Linked DNA regions of Homo sapiens: regions 1 and 3 are each linked to region 2. The links come from fine-mapping of genetic effects on gene expression. A gene starts in region 2. Each other region holds a variant in brackets. All regions are shown on one strand. Distances are between the middles of the regions. Region 1 overlaps RNF111 (ring finger protein 111). Region 2 holds the start of RNF111 (ring finger protein 111). Region 3 overlaps FAM81A (family with sequence similarity 81 member A).

Evidence for each region. PIP is the estimated chance that this variant, and not a neighbour inherited with it, causes the effect.
Region 1: its variant is the best candidate, but not a certain one, in a credible set for the expression of RNF111 in whole blood (TOPMed, PIP 0.60).
Region 3: its variant is the best candidate, but not a certain one, in a credible set for the expression of RNF111 in neutrophils (BLUEPRINT, PIP 0.69).

What each region holds. Positions count from the first base shown.
Region 1 is chr15:59,060,783-59,065,029 of GRCh38, forward strand. All of the region lies in intron 5 of RNF111 (ring finger protein 111), which reads left to right. Among named protein-coding and RNA genes, the nearest start is that of CCNB2, 42 kb to the right of the region's middle. The variant A/G (reference allele first, on the strand shown) is at 1,961.
Region 2 is chr15:58,985,709-58,989,955 of GRCh38, forward strand. It overlaps RNF111 (ring finger protein 111), which reads left to right and starts at 1,955. Exons shown (of 14, transcript NM_017610.8): 1 at 1,955-2,360. RefSeq lists a silencer at 2,674-2,838.
Region 3 is chr15:59,516,536-59,520,782 of GRCh38, forward strand. FAM81A (family with sequence similarity 81 member A) reads left to right here. Exons shown (of 9, transcript NM_152450.3): 8 at 110-305. Among named protein-coding and RNA genes, the nearest start is that of FAM81A, 80 kb to the left of the region's middle. The variant C/CTG (reference allele first, on the strand shown) is at 2,408.

The DNA.
Region 1 (4,247 bases), 75 kb after region 2:
AGCATTATTATTATTATTATTATTATTTTTTTTTTTGTGAGACAGGTCTGACTCTGTTGCCCAGGCCTGTGTGCAGTGGCACAATCTTGTCTCACTGCAATCTCCACCTCCCAGGCTCAAGTGATCCTCCCGAGTAGATGGGGGACCACAGGCATGACCACCACGTCCGGCTAATTTTTGTATTTTAGTAGAGATGGGGTTTTGCCATGTTGCCGTGTTGCCCACACTGGCCTCAGTCTCCTGGGCTCGAGCGATCCACCTGCCTCAGCCTCCAGAAGTGCTGGGATTACAGGTGTGAACTACCACCCTCGGCCTATGTGTAGCATTATTCTTACGTACATTTTATGTGATACAGTCCCAACTTTATTTCAGAATATTCCAAAAACTTTTATATATAAATCTTTGTTCATTCACAAATCAGATTTAATTTCTGAGCATCTTGGCTACAGTCCTAAATGGGCCTCTCTTAAGGTCAATTTCCTTCCAGGACCCTATGGAACATTAGTTCAACTATGTTCTCCACAACCCGTCCTTATCTTGTACCTTTTTGAATATTTCCAACCCTCACATTCAAGCCATCTAGCTTCACACTTATCCAAGTTCCTCCGTAAATTTATGGTTTCGAATCCTGGGCTTTCTGTAGGAAATCACCATTGTCTTGATCAGTTCCCTTTCGTTCCTCTAAGTGCCTATTTCAAAACACTCTCCTTTTCCTCAAGGTTTTCATTCCCCAGGGGAAATTTTAAAAAAATGAATAAATGAAAGTTCTTAAGCATGAACTCCTGCAACTTCCAATGCCTCCATATAAACTTTTGTGGCTCTCTACCTGTCCTCCTCTACTAATTCCTAGTCTCCTAACTCCTTCCTTTCCCTTCCAGTTCCTTTATCTGTGCTCTACCTCTTATCCTTTCCTTTGTCCTTAACCTTGCTTTAACTGTTATCTTCCTTGTGTCTTCGGCATCTTCTCTGGTTTCATTTCCTTAGTACATGCACATGTACACTTGTTTTTGTCTGTGTACATTTAAGTGTATTTTTGTCACACTAAACTCTTTCCTCTAATGGGCTTCTGACTCCTTTCATAATGAATAAACATGATCTTTTAAAATCTGACAATTGTCTCCTTTTCATAATTCATTTTCTTCCCAGGACTGTGTTCTCATCCCCCCTTTCACTAGCCCATTTCATAACTGTAAGTGTTGTCACCTATCACTAGTATGCTGATGACTCTCTCTTCTGTGTTTTTTGACCACTATATTTGTTTTAAACTTCTTTTTTTTTTTTTTTTTTTCCCCGAGACAGGGTCTTGCTTTGTCACGTAGGCTAGAGTGCAGGCTCACTGCAGCCTCCACTTCCAGGCTTAAGTGATCCTCCTGCATCAGCCCCACAAGTAGCTGGGACTACAGGCACACTCTACCACACCTGGCCAATTTATGTATTTTTTGTAGAGATAGGGTTTTGCCATGTTGCCCAGGCTGGTCTCGAACTCCTGGACTCAGGCAATTCACTTGCCTCAGCTTTCCAAAGTGTTGGGATTACAAGTGTGAGCCACCATGCCCGGCCATTTTAGACTTTCATATCCAATTGCTTCTTGGACATCTCTCCTGGACCGTTCTGCAGTCAGTTCAAACTCAATGTGCCACAAACAGCTCATTATCTGTCTGACCTCTCCATGTGGTCCTTGTGTTATGCCTACATGATATCTTATATATTCATTTGTTTAACACATATTTATTGATGGCACACTATATGTCAGGCACTGTTCTAGGCAGTGGGAACAAAACAGATAAATTTTTGTTCTAACAGAGCTTACCCTCTAGTGGATAGCAATAGCTAACATTTATTGAGCCTATAGTGTTGGCCGGTGGATTTGCCTATAATAACTCTGATTTTTACAGTAACCAGTAAGGCAGATTTTATTACTCTTCTCATTCTACAGGTGAAGTAACATATCCAAGGTTAT[A/G]TGATAGTGGAGCAAGAATTCAAACCTAGGCAGTCTGGCGTGGTACCTCTACTTTTCCCCTTTATGCCAAGATTTCTCAACCTTGGCACTACTATTGACTTTGGGCCAGATAGTTCTTACAGTGGGAGGTGGGGAAAGGCTGTGCTTACAGGATATTTAGCAGCATCCTTGGTTTGTAGCCTCTAAATTCCAGTAACATCACCTCCCTTCCAATTGTAACAACCAAAAATGTCTGCAGGCATTGCCAGATACTGGGGACAGCATTGCTTTATGCTATGCTAGAACCCAGTGTTTCTGTTCTAATACTGGTTGATTTGTATCCTAAATTGTCTCCATGCTTGATGATGAGCTTCCTTAAGGGCCAAAGAGCAAGTGTTTCTCTTCTTGGCGCTTAGCTACATGATTGCATGCTGCTTTTCCCTTGTGAGTTGAAATTAAATATAGAAAGTGCTTATTGAGCCACCTACATTGTGCAAGCATGTTTCTGGTTGCTAGAGATAAAAACAGCAAAAGCAGACCATACCGTAAGTTATGTTAAAGGCCAGGACTTTCATTTTCACCTTTGTATTATCCAGTGCCTTTTGTAGATCTTTTACCACGACTTTATTATGTGTAAGACTGTTGAATGAATGAGTAATTCATGCCTGCCTCTCGATAATCCTGCTAGAGTTACTGAAGGCACTCCTAGGAGGCACTTTAACCAAATTATTGTCCCTGGGTTGTGGAGTTAATTTCCCTAATGCAGGTTCATGATTGTCTCATTTTTAGTGGGCCCTCTATGGGTTAATTTTAATAGAAAAGGAAGTGTTTTATTTACTGAATCATATATCTCTGTATTTCACCTCTAATTTATGACAGTTTTATTTGGGTAGTAACTCTCGAATGAGAGGCTAATTGGTTGTCTTTAGTTTTGGATGCAAGCCTGTTTGAGAAACAAAGAGGTTCTGGACTATATATATTCAAAATGCTCGAAGGCAAAAGAGGACAAGCTGTTTCTGAACAGATACATGTCATATCCATCACTTTAGTGATGGTTACAAACTCATACCCTGACTTTTAGAGTCAACGTAATCCTCAAATAACTTGGTTTGTAAAATTAAAGTGTCAGAGTTGGAAGGAACCATGAAGGTAATTTAGCGTATCCCAGTGAGTGAGCTTAGTATCCCAAAGGTTTTCAACCTTTTTTTCCTGATGCAATACACAATAAATGATATTGACTTGTATAACACTTTTACATAGAGACTAAGATAAAACCCTGAAAATGCTGTAGCAAGTAAAGCTACTGTAATAATGAGTAATTACTATACATATTATAATTTATAGGAAACAGTTACTTAATGTTGGGTTCAGCATAGCCCTAAAAGACTTTTGATCATGGTCAGTTCCTGATATGCTAGTTTTAACACTTGACCAGGTTATTCAACACATTTGGAATACAAGTGAATGAAAGTAACATAATTATAGAACTGACTTTGGAACTGCTATTATTTGTTCTAAAAAGTAAATAATCTGGCCGGGCGTGGTGCCTCACGCCTGTAATCCCAGCACTTTGGGAGGTCGAGGTGGGTGGATCACGAGGTCAGGAGATCGAGACCATCCTGGCTAACATGGTGAAACCCCGTCTCTACTAAAAATACAAAAAAATTAGCCGGGCTTGGTGGCGGGCGCCTGTAGTCCCAGCTACTCGGGAGGCTGAGGCAGGAGAATGGCGTGAACCCGGGAGGCAGAGCTTGCAGTAAGTGGAGATTGCGCCACTGCACTCTAGCCTGGGCGACAGAGCAAGACTTTGTCGCAAAAAAAAAAAAAAAAAAGGAAATAATTTGTCGACTTTGTTTTTTTGTTACAAATTACAATATTTAACATAATTCTAGGGGCAGTTAGAGGTTAGTGTCAGTTTGTATTTTTCTTCCGTCCAAGTTCACAGACGCGTGAATTCTAGTTCCCAGGTTAAGAACCTTTACAAAAGGGTTTGGGAGATTAGCCCCCATAGGCCAGACTAGCAGCTTGGAAAAAACGAATATACAGAAATTTAGATTAGAGCTACTGTGTAACAGAGGTTAGAGCACAGACCTTGAAGAGATGAGAATCCGGAAAGGCAGGATAAGACATGTAAGAGAGGGCAGAGCCAGGAGAATTTTAGGGAAATTTGCTGAATCTTACCAAGCAGAGCCTGAAGCACCCCCCTACCCAGGTTCATTTATGTGAACCCATAATTCCCTTTATTATTTAAGCTGTTTTGGTTGGATTTTTATTTTATTTGTAAACAAGCAGAAGATTCCTAATTGAT
Region 2 (4,247 bases):
ATCCAAAATATTATTTCAACATATAATAAATATTAAAAAGTACTGAGATTTTTCAGTCTTTTTTTGTATTGTACCTTTGAAATTCGATGTGTATTTTTCACTTAAAGCACTTCTCAATTATTTTTATTTATTTATTTTTTTAGGGAGACGGAAAAGGAAAAGGGGAGGGGAGAGGGAGAAGAGGAGGGAGTCTAGCCACATTTTAAGTGCTCAGCAGCCACATATGGCTGGTGTCTACCTAATTGAAGAACACAGGTCAAAAGCTTCAGAAAAAAGGTTAGAGCTGGAAATACAGGTTTGAGAAGTCATGAGATAGTAACAGTTAAAATCAAGGGAGAAGATAAGATAGTCCGGGCAAAATTCTATGTTTAAGAGTGAGAAAATAGGAGGATTGAGGAAAATCCTAGTCGAATGCTCTTTTAGTTTTCCCACACAATCTGCTATCCTTGATCATTATTGTAATTTTAAAATCATTTGTGTGTGTGTGTGTGTGTGTGTTTTGTTTGTTTGTTTGTTTGTTTGTTTTGAGACGGAATCTCACTCTGTCGCCCAGGCTGGAGTGCAGTGGCACAATCTCGCACTCACTACAACCTCTGCCTCCCGGGTCCTAGCAATTCTCCTGTGTCAGCCTCCCGAGTAGCTGGGGTTACAGGCGCCCGCCACTACGCCCGGCTAATTTTTTGTATTTTTAGTAGAGACAGCGTTTCACCGTGTTAGCCAGGATGGTCTCCATCTCCTGACCTCATGATCCGCCCGCCTTGGCCTCCAAAAGTGCTGGGATTACAGGCGTGAGCCACCGCGCCCAGCCTTTTTTTTTTTTTTCTTGGAGACGGAGTCTCCCTGTCACCCGGGCTGGGGTGCAATGGCTTGATCATGGCTCACTGCAACCTCGGCCACCCTGGCTCAAGCGATTCTCCTGCCTCAGCCTGCCGAGTAGCTGGGATTACAGGCGTCCGCCACCACGCCCAGCTAGTTTTTGTATTTTTAGTGGAGAAGGAGTTTCACCATGTTGGCCAGGCTGGTCTTGAACTCCTGATCTCAGGTAGTCCACCCGCCTAGGCCTCCCAAAGTGCTGGGATTACAGGCGTGAGCCACCGTGCCCGGCCAAAATCATTTGCTTACTGAATGATACGGAAAATATGAGTGAACAAAAAAAGTATTGAAAAAGATGAGTTGATGGCAAAGGGAGGGAATTAATGTTTAGTGAACACTTAATTGGCAAGTAATGTTCAGAGCATTATATAAATTGTCTCATTTAATCTAACAAGAACCTTTTGAGGTAAATACGTTATCCCAATTTATAGAGGAGGAAACTAAGATTTATAAGGATCTCATCAATCAGAGAACTCTTAAGTGGCACCACTGGACTTTGAAAGGAAGTCTGCCTGATGGACTCTGAAGCTCATCCTCTCTCTATCCTCCTAATGCATATAATGACGCATTTGTTATCTACTGACTTTTATAAAATAAACAAGGAGGCTTATGCGATTGTACAGCCCGAGTTCGCAGGAGATATGTGACCACTTTTGATCTGATTCCGGAAGCAAATTCACTTTAACAGTGAGGTGCCGTGATCTTTATGTCATTAGCGCATATGATATGGGTATCATTTGTTGTGAAAGACACTAACCCATGATGTTTTTGTTTACGTATATCTGTAAATGTATCAATTCTGTAGTTGGTTAATTTTTAGTTACGAAAAAATGAACCAAGATGTAGTCAAGATTTGGCTTAAATGTTGAACGCATAATCACCAAAGAAAATTAAATAATGAGCTTTGTGACACCTTTCAGTTCGCCAACAGACTGATAAAACCAGTACAAAGGGGGAGGGCCGGGACCGAGGGGGCGGGACGGTGAGAAACGGGAATCGAGCAAGCGCAGAAACAAACAGATGTTAATGGAGGCGTGAAGGCTACTGCGCTCTCACTTTCCGAACTGTCGTAAAGAGCCCTAGTGTCGTGCTCTCCTCGGTAGGGGAGGAATTGGTTAGGCGGCGGCGGCGGCGAAGCGGCGGCGGCGGCTGTAGGGGAGCAGCGGCAGTGGCGGCGACGGCGAGGAGGTGTTCGGTTTGCGCAGCGTAGAAACGCCCGCAGCTTCAGAGAAGGAGTTCTTGTGGGACCAAATTAGGCATTCTGAACCCACGCCGGCTTAGCTGGGCCGAGTCCAGGCGCTGCCGCACGTACAGTTTTGGTGGCGGTGACAGACACTGTTCTTGACTCTAGGGGCCTATTAGGCCGACGTCTGAGGCGCAGATCGCTGGCTCTCGACGCATTACTCTTTACGCCTTACATTTCTGTCTTCCTTCCTGGGTCAGTGATTCCCGGACCCTGGAAGAGAAGAGGGTGGCTAATGATTAAGGTGAGGGGAACGGGGGGGGAGGGGATCCATTGGAGGCCGCGCGTGCGCGCAACGGGGGAGGGGCCGGCCTGGAGGGGAGAAAGAGGAAGGGCTGCGGCCGCGGAAGGCTGGGGTCGGTGACCGGCCGGTTATCTCTGGCTCGGTGGTGACTTAGGGTCTGGGTCTCCGCAGACGATTTGTGTTTGGGCAAGGCATTCGTCTACCGACACACCCACAGCCTACAGTGAGGGAGTGTGGGTGAGGGGATTTCTCTCCCACTTCCGACTCTCCCTAGAGTCTCAGGATGGGGGCTGAGGACCGAGGCGTGGGAGTGCGATTTGACAATGGAGTGATGAAGGTAACCCGGACCCGGGGAGTTGGAGGGCGCTAAGTCAGCCCTGACGGCTAGGGAGTCGCCTGCTGCTGCTGTGATCAAGGAAACGTAGTCCGCGGAACAGCTGAAATACAGACGCGTCAGATTTTGTATGGAGTTGGCTTGTTGGTCATTTAAAAAGAAACTGATGTTTTTACTATTGTCCTTCGATAATTTATCAGAGTCAGTGTCAGTGCTATAGTGGGAATATCTGTTCAGTGCAGCAGAAATAGATTTGTTACAACAGTTCTTAAATAGGTTATAGTAGATAGATCTTTACAGATGGGTATTTCTCAACCTAAGTTTTGATTATTCAAAAAATACCAGAAAGTATGAGGTATTCATTTAATTTGTTCGTGTGTGTGTTGTGGGGTGACTCCATTGTGTTGTTGTAAGCTTTCCTGTTTCTTGATTTATGTGCGGCATTAATTTAGAATTCTCTTGAATGGTAAGATGCCAGCTGACATAGACTACGTTTTGTAGGATTTCCTGTAGCTTTTGAATGTGACTTAATCTAAACTTTATTTCATTTGGTATTTTATCTATAATTTTCTTGTTTTAGGGGCCTCTTGAACTAAAAAGAACAAACTGGGAAAAACATAAGCTAAGGTTCCATTTCCTTTCCCATTTTTGTTGTGTGTGTGTGTGATGGTTGTAAATGCTTGAATGTGATTTTGAGATTACCATACACAACTTCTGTAACGCTGGACTTAGCTTTATTACAGTAAAGATACATCTTTTGATAGTTTATTACTATATGTATTTTTGTAAAAATCTTCATGTCAGTATAAGCCACATTGTTTCACCCTAGTCTGGTTATATTTGTGAGGTGAAACAGATGGATAAGAAGGAAGCCCTTTTACTTTTACAATCATTTTAAATTGATTGTTTCTAAAGCCTTGATTTATCTTATTTTGGACACTTTCTTGCCATTTAACCTTGGACAAATGACTTTATCATCTCTCTCCTGCTCATTTGTTTGTGACCAAAGATTCACAACAGTATTCTAAGAATTGGTGAGGGTGTTTATAAATCTAAATAATATTTTAGGAAAAAGTAGGAAGAATGAGTCTCCTTGTTTATCACGGGTGCTATATCATGTGCAGATCCTTCTGTCACTTCTTAACTTTTGTTTGGTGTCTGTTGGCCACTTGTTTGCTAGTTATTTCACCAGACATAGAACTGGTTTTTAAAGAAAGGTATAAACAAAGTGACTTCATTTTGGTGAAAAATGCATTACAGCAGAGGTTACATCTTAACGAATTTCACTTTGGTACTCCATTTCTACAGATTATTGAGAGAGAGCTGTTGTGATGTTTAAGAGAAAAGCACCTTGCTTGTATAAAGCTAAGGTGCAGTCATTTAGCAGATACTCCTAGTTATTTTACTTTAAAATAAAAAATATAAAGGAAACTAATTGAATCAAACCATTTAGATTTTTAGATGTTTCCTTCTTTTTTTTTTTGTTATAGTTTAAAGAGAGGTTTCTGTATCATGCTTTACTTGAGGCATACTTATGTGCCCTTCTTTTGACT
Region 3 (4,247 bases), 530 kb after region 2:
TGCAAATCTGTTTCTTGCAGATTGTTGTTAAACGATATTATGGCTGATGTGAATGCAATGCAGATTTCTTTTTGGAGTGATTAAGTGCAGTTCTTATCATGGATCTCAGGGAGCCAGTGAAAGGGATATGGAGAAGAAGCTCAGCCAGATGTCAGCCAGGCTTGACAAAATAGAAGAGGGTCAAAAGAAGACTTTTGATGGTCAGAGAACAAGGCAAGAAGAGGAGAAGATGCACGGGCGAATCACCAAGCTGGAGTTACAGATGAACCAGAACATCAAGGAAATGAAAGCAGAAGTTAATGCTGGTAGGCCAAAACCAGAACAGCTCACGTGCTTTATTTTCTGTTTGTTCTAAAACCTATTAATTAGTATCCCCTGCAACTACCTATGAACCTGGCTAATGGTAATAACCGTGAAATATCCTTAGTTGATTTTCTGAGTAGCTGTGCTGTATTTTCTAAGTAGCTACAATGCTGTTTGAATTTCAGCTATATAAAGAGCCACCGTGAGAGACAGGCAAACAGAACTGAAATTGCTTAGCCTGCAACTGAGGTACATTTTCTTCAGCACCATCGGCCAATTCTTTTCTGTTCATAGCCAAGGTTAACATGTCTCAGAAGGAAGCACATATCTTTGAGGGGGTTTTGAGGGCTTATTTTATAGTGCTAGCAGTACAGTACCACCCTGGCAAAGAATGATTTTCCTCTACTGGCAGGTCAGCAGGGCGCATTAATTCACACTTGCTTAGAGGAGAACATTAGCACTGATTTCAAGTTCTGAGTGCTGTCATATATGGGAGGGATTAGATTTACGCTCTGAACTCAGGAATACAGAACTGTGACCACTAAGTGGAAGGTACCCGAAGACAGATTTTAACTCAATATGAGGCAGAAGTACCTTGAAGTTAATGAGTCCTAAAAGACTGATGGCTTTCGGAGCTTGAGAGCTCTTTGTTACAGAAAATATTCAAGTAGAGGCTGGTTGATTGTGGTCAGGAAGAAGACGTTCCTGTAGTGTGAGAAGTGGAACTAAATTCTCTCCTAGCTTCTTCCAGTTGTATGATTCCATGAATTTTCTTCTATGAAATTGTTCTGTTTTGGCCACATGGAAATAAAAGTGCTAGTTATCCCTAGAATAATTTTGTTATTACCACCAAATGTTTATTATTTTATTTATAGGAGCTACAATTAAATATATGAATTGGAGAACTTGTAAAGATAAAAATGAATTTTCTTTCTTAGTCTTTGGACTATTAAAATATGGTATTTGAATATTTCATCAATGTTTAACCTCGCATCATTCCCTGAAGGAATGTATTGTTATTTAACATACCATTGAGGATGTTAATATTTAGCACCTAATATGAAAAGCATCTGAGCCTTTTAAAAAATAAAGCCATTTTCTTTATTACAAAGACAATATATTTCTTCTTTCTTCCTTTTTTTTTTTTGTTTTGGAGACAGAATCTTGCTCTGTTGCCAGCCTGGAGTGCAGTGGCGTGATCTTGGCTCACTGCAACCTCTGCCTTCAGGGTACAAGCGATTCTCCTGCCTCAGCCTCCTGAGTAGCTGGGATTACAGGCGCCTGACATCACGGCCGGCTAATTTTTTTTTTTTTTTTTTAATAGAAACAAGGTTTCACCATGTTGGCCAGGCTAGTCTTGAACCCCCAACCTCAAATGATCCTCCCGCCTCGGCCTGCTGAAGTGCTGGGATTACAGGCAAGAGCCACCAGGCCTAGCCTCATGATGCCTTTTTACCCCTTTATTATTTCCATTTTTTTGGAAATTAAAAAAAATGACAGAATGAGACAGAGGCTCACTCTGTTGCCTAGGCCGGGGTGAAGTGGTGTGATCGTAGCTCACTACAGCCTCCTGGGCTCAGGTGAGCCCCCTGCCTCGACCTCCTGAGCAGCTAGGACTATGGGCATGTGCCACCATGCCCAGCTCATTTTTTTATTTAAAAAATTTTTTTAGAGATGGGTCCTCAGTATGTTGCCCAGACTGGTCTGGAACTCCTGGCCTCAAGCAGTCCTCTTGCCTTGACCTGCCAAAGCTCTGGAATTACAGGTGTGAGCCGCTGCCTGGTTGCCCTTTTATTATTTCAGTGTATATATCCTAAGAACAAGGATATTCTCTTATAAATAACTTTAATACAATGTATCATCAATGAAATATTTTTTAATATTCAATTTTCAACGTGCCATTATTTCCTTTATAGCAACCCTTTTCCAGTCTAGTGTCTTTTTTTTTCTAATTACATGTTTTTTAAATAAAAAAAATTGTTGTGTATATTTAAGGTATACAACAAGATGTTTATATTTTGATATATATATACATAGTGAAATAGTTACTGTATTCAAGCAGGTTAACATATGTATCATCTCACAGGTATTTGTGTGTGTGTGT[C/CTG]TGTGTGTGTGTGTGTGTGTGTGTGTGTGTGTGTGGCAAGAACACCTGAAAATGTACTCTTTTAGCAAAAATCCCAAATACAATACAATATTATTGACTGCAGTCCTCATGCTATACATTAGACATCTGGTCTTGTTCATTCTCCATATCAGCAATTTGTATCTTTTGACCTGCATCTCCCCATTTCCTCCTCTTCCGCCCCACCTTTGGCAACCACCATTTTATTCTCTATGTTTTTGACTTTCTTTCTTTTCTTTTTTTTTTTAGACAGAGTCTTGCTCTGTCGCCCAGGCTGGAGTGCAGTGGTGCAGTCTCGGCTGACTGCGACCTATTCTTCGCAAGTTCAAGTGATTCTCATACCTCAGCCCCGCGGGTAGCTGGGATTGTAGATGTGCACCACCAGGCCCAGCTAATTTTTGTATTTTTAGTAGAGATGGAGTTTCATGGTGTTGGCCAGGCTGGTCTCAAACTACTGACCTCAAGTAATCCACCCGCCTCGGCCTGCCTTCCTCCCTCCCTCCCTCCCTCCTTTCCTTCCTTCCTTCCTTCCTCCCTCCTTCTCTCTTTCTCTCTTTCTTTCCTTTCTTTCTCTTTCTTTTCTTTCTTCCTTTCTTTCCTTTCCCTTCCCTTCCCTTCCCTTCCTTTCCCTTCCCCTCCCCTCCCCTTCCCTTCTTCCTTCCTTTTCTTTTTTTAGATTCCACATATGAGATCGTGCAGTATTTTTCTTTCTGTATCTGTCTTATTTCACTTAGCATAATGTCCTCCATTTTTATCCATTTGTGACAAATGGCAGGCTCTCCTTTTTTGTAAAGCTGAATAATATTCATCATTTGTATATATACACAATTTCTTTATTCACTAATTTTTTGATGGACACACTTCAGTTGTTTCCATATCTTGGCTATTGTAAATAATGGTGCAGTGAACAGGGGAGTGCAGATATCTTTATGAGGCAGTAATTTAATTTCTTTTGGGAATATACCCAGTAGTGAGATTGCTGGGTCGTATGGTAGTTCTATTTTAAATTTCTTTAGTAACCTCTATACCAAGCTTGTCCAACCCACATCCCGCAGGCCACATGCGACCCAGGATGGCTTTGAATGCAGCCTAACCCAAATTCGTAAACTTTCTTAAAACATTATGAGATTTTTTTGTGATTTTTTTTTTTAAATCACTCATCAGCTATCATTAGTGTTAGTGTATTTGTATTGCCCAAGACAATTCTTTCAGTGTGGCCCAAGGAAGCTGAAAGTTTGGATACCCCTGCCCTATACTGTTTTCCACTATGGCTGCCCCATCCTGCATTCCCACCAACAGTGTACAAGTGTTCCCCTTTCTTCACACCCTCGCTAATGCTTGTACTCGTTTGTCTTTTTGATAATAGCCATCCTAACAGGTGTGAGGTGATAACTCATTGTGGTTTTAATTTGTATTTTTCCTATAATTAGTGATGTTGGCCCTTCAGGTTCTAATCCAGAATTACACATCGTATTTAGTTGTCATGTTTCTTTATTTAGTCTCTATTAATCTGGATCAGTTTCTCAGTGATGTTGACCTTTTTAAAGAATACCAGCCAGCCAGCATTTTGTAGACTATCCCTAGTTTAGATTTGTTTGCTTCATTTTTTTTTTTTTTTTTTTGAGACGAGTCTTGCTCTGTCGCCGAGGCTGGAGTGCAGTAGCACAATCTCAGCTCACTGCAACGTCCGCTTCCTGGGTTCAAGCAATTCTCCCTGCCTCAGCCTCCCGAGTAGCTGGGACTACAGGTGTGCGCCACCATACCCAGCTAATTTTTGTATTTTTAGTAGAGACAGGGTTTCGCCGTGTTGGCCAGGCTGGCT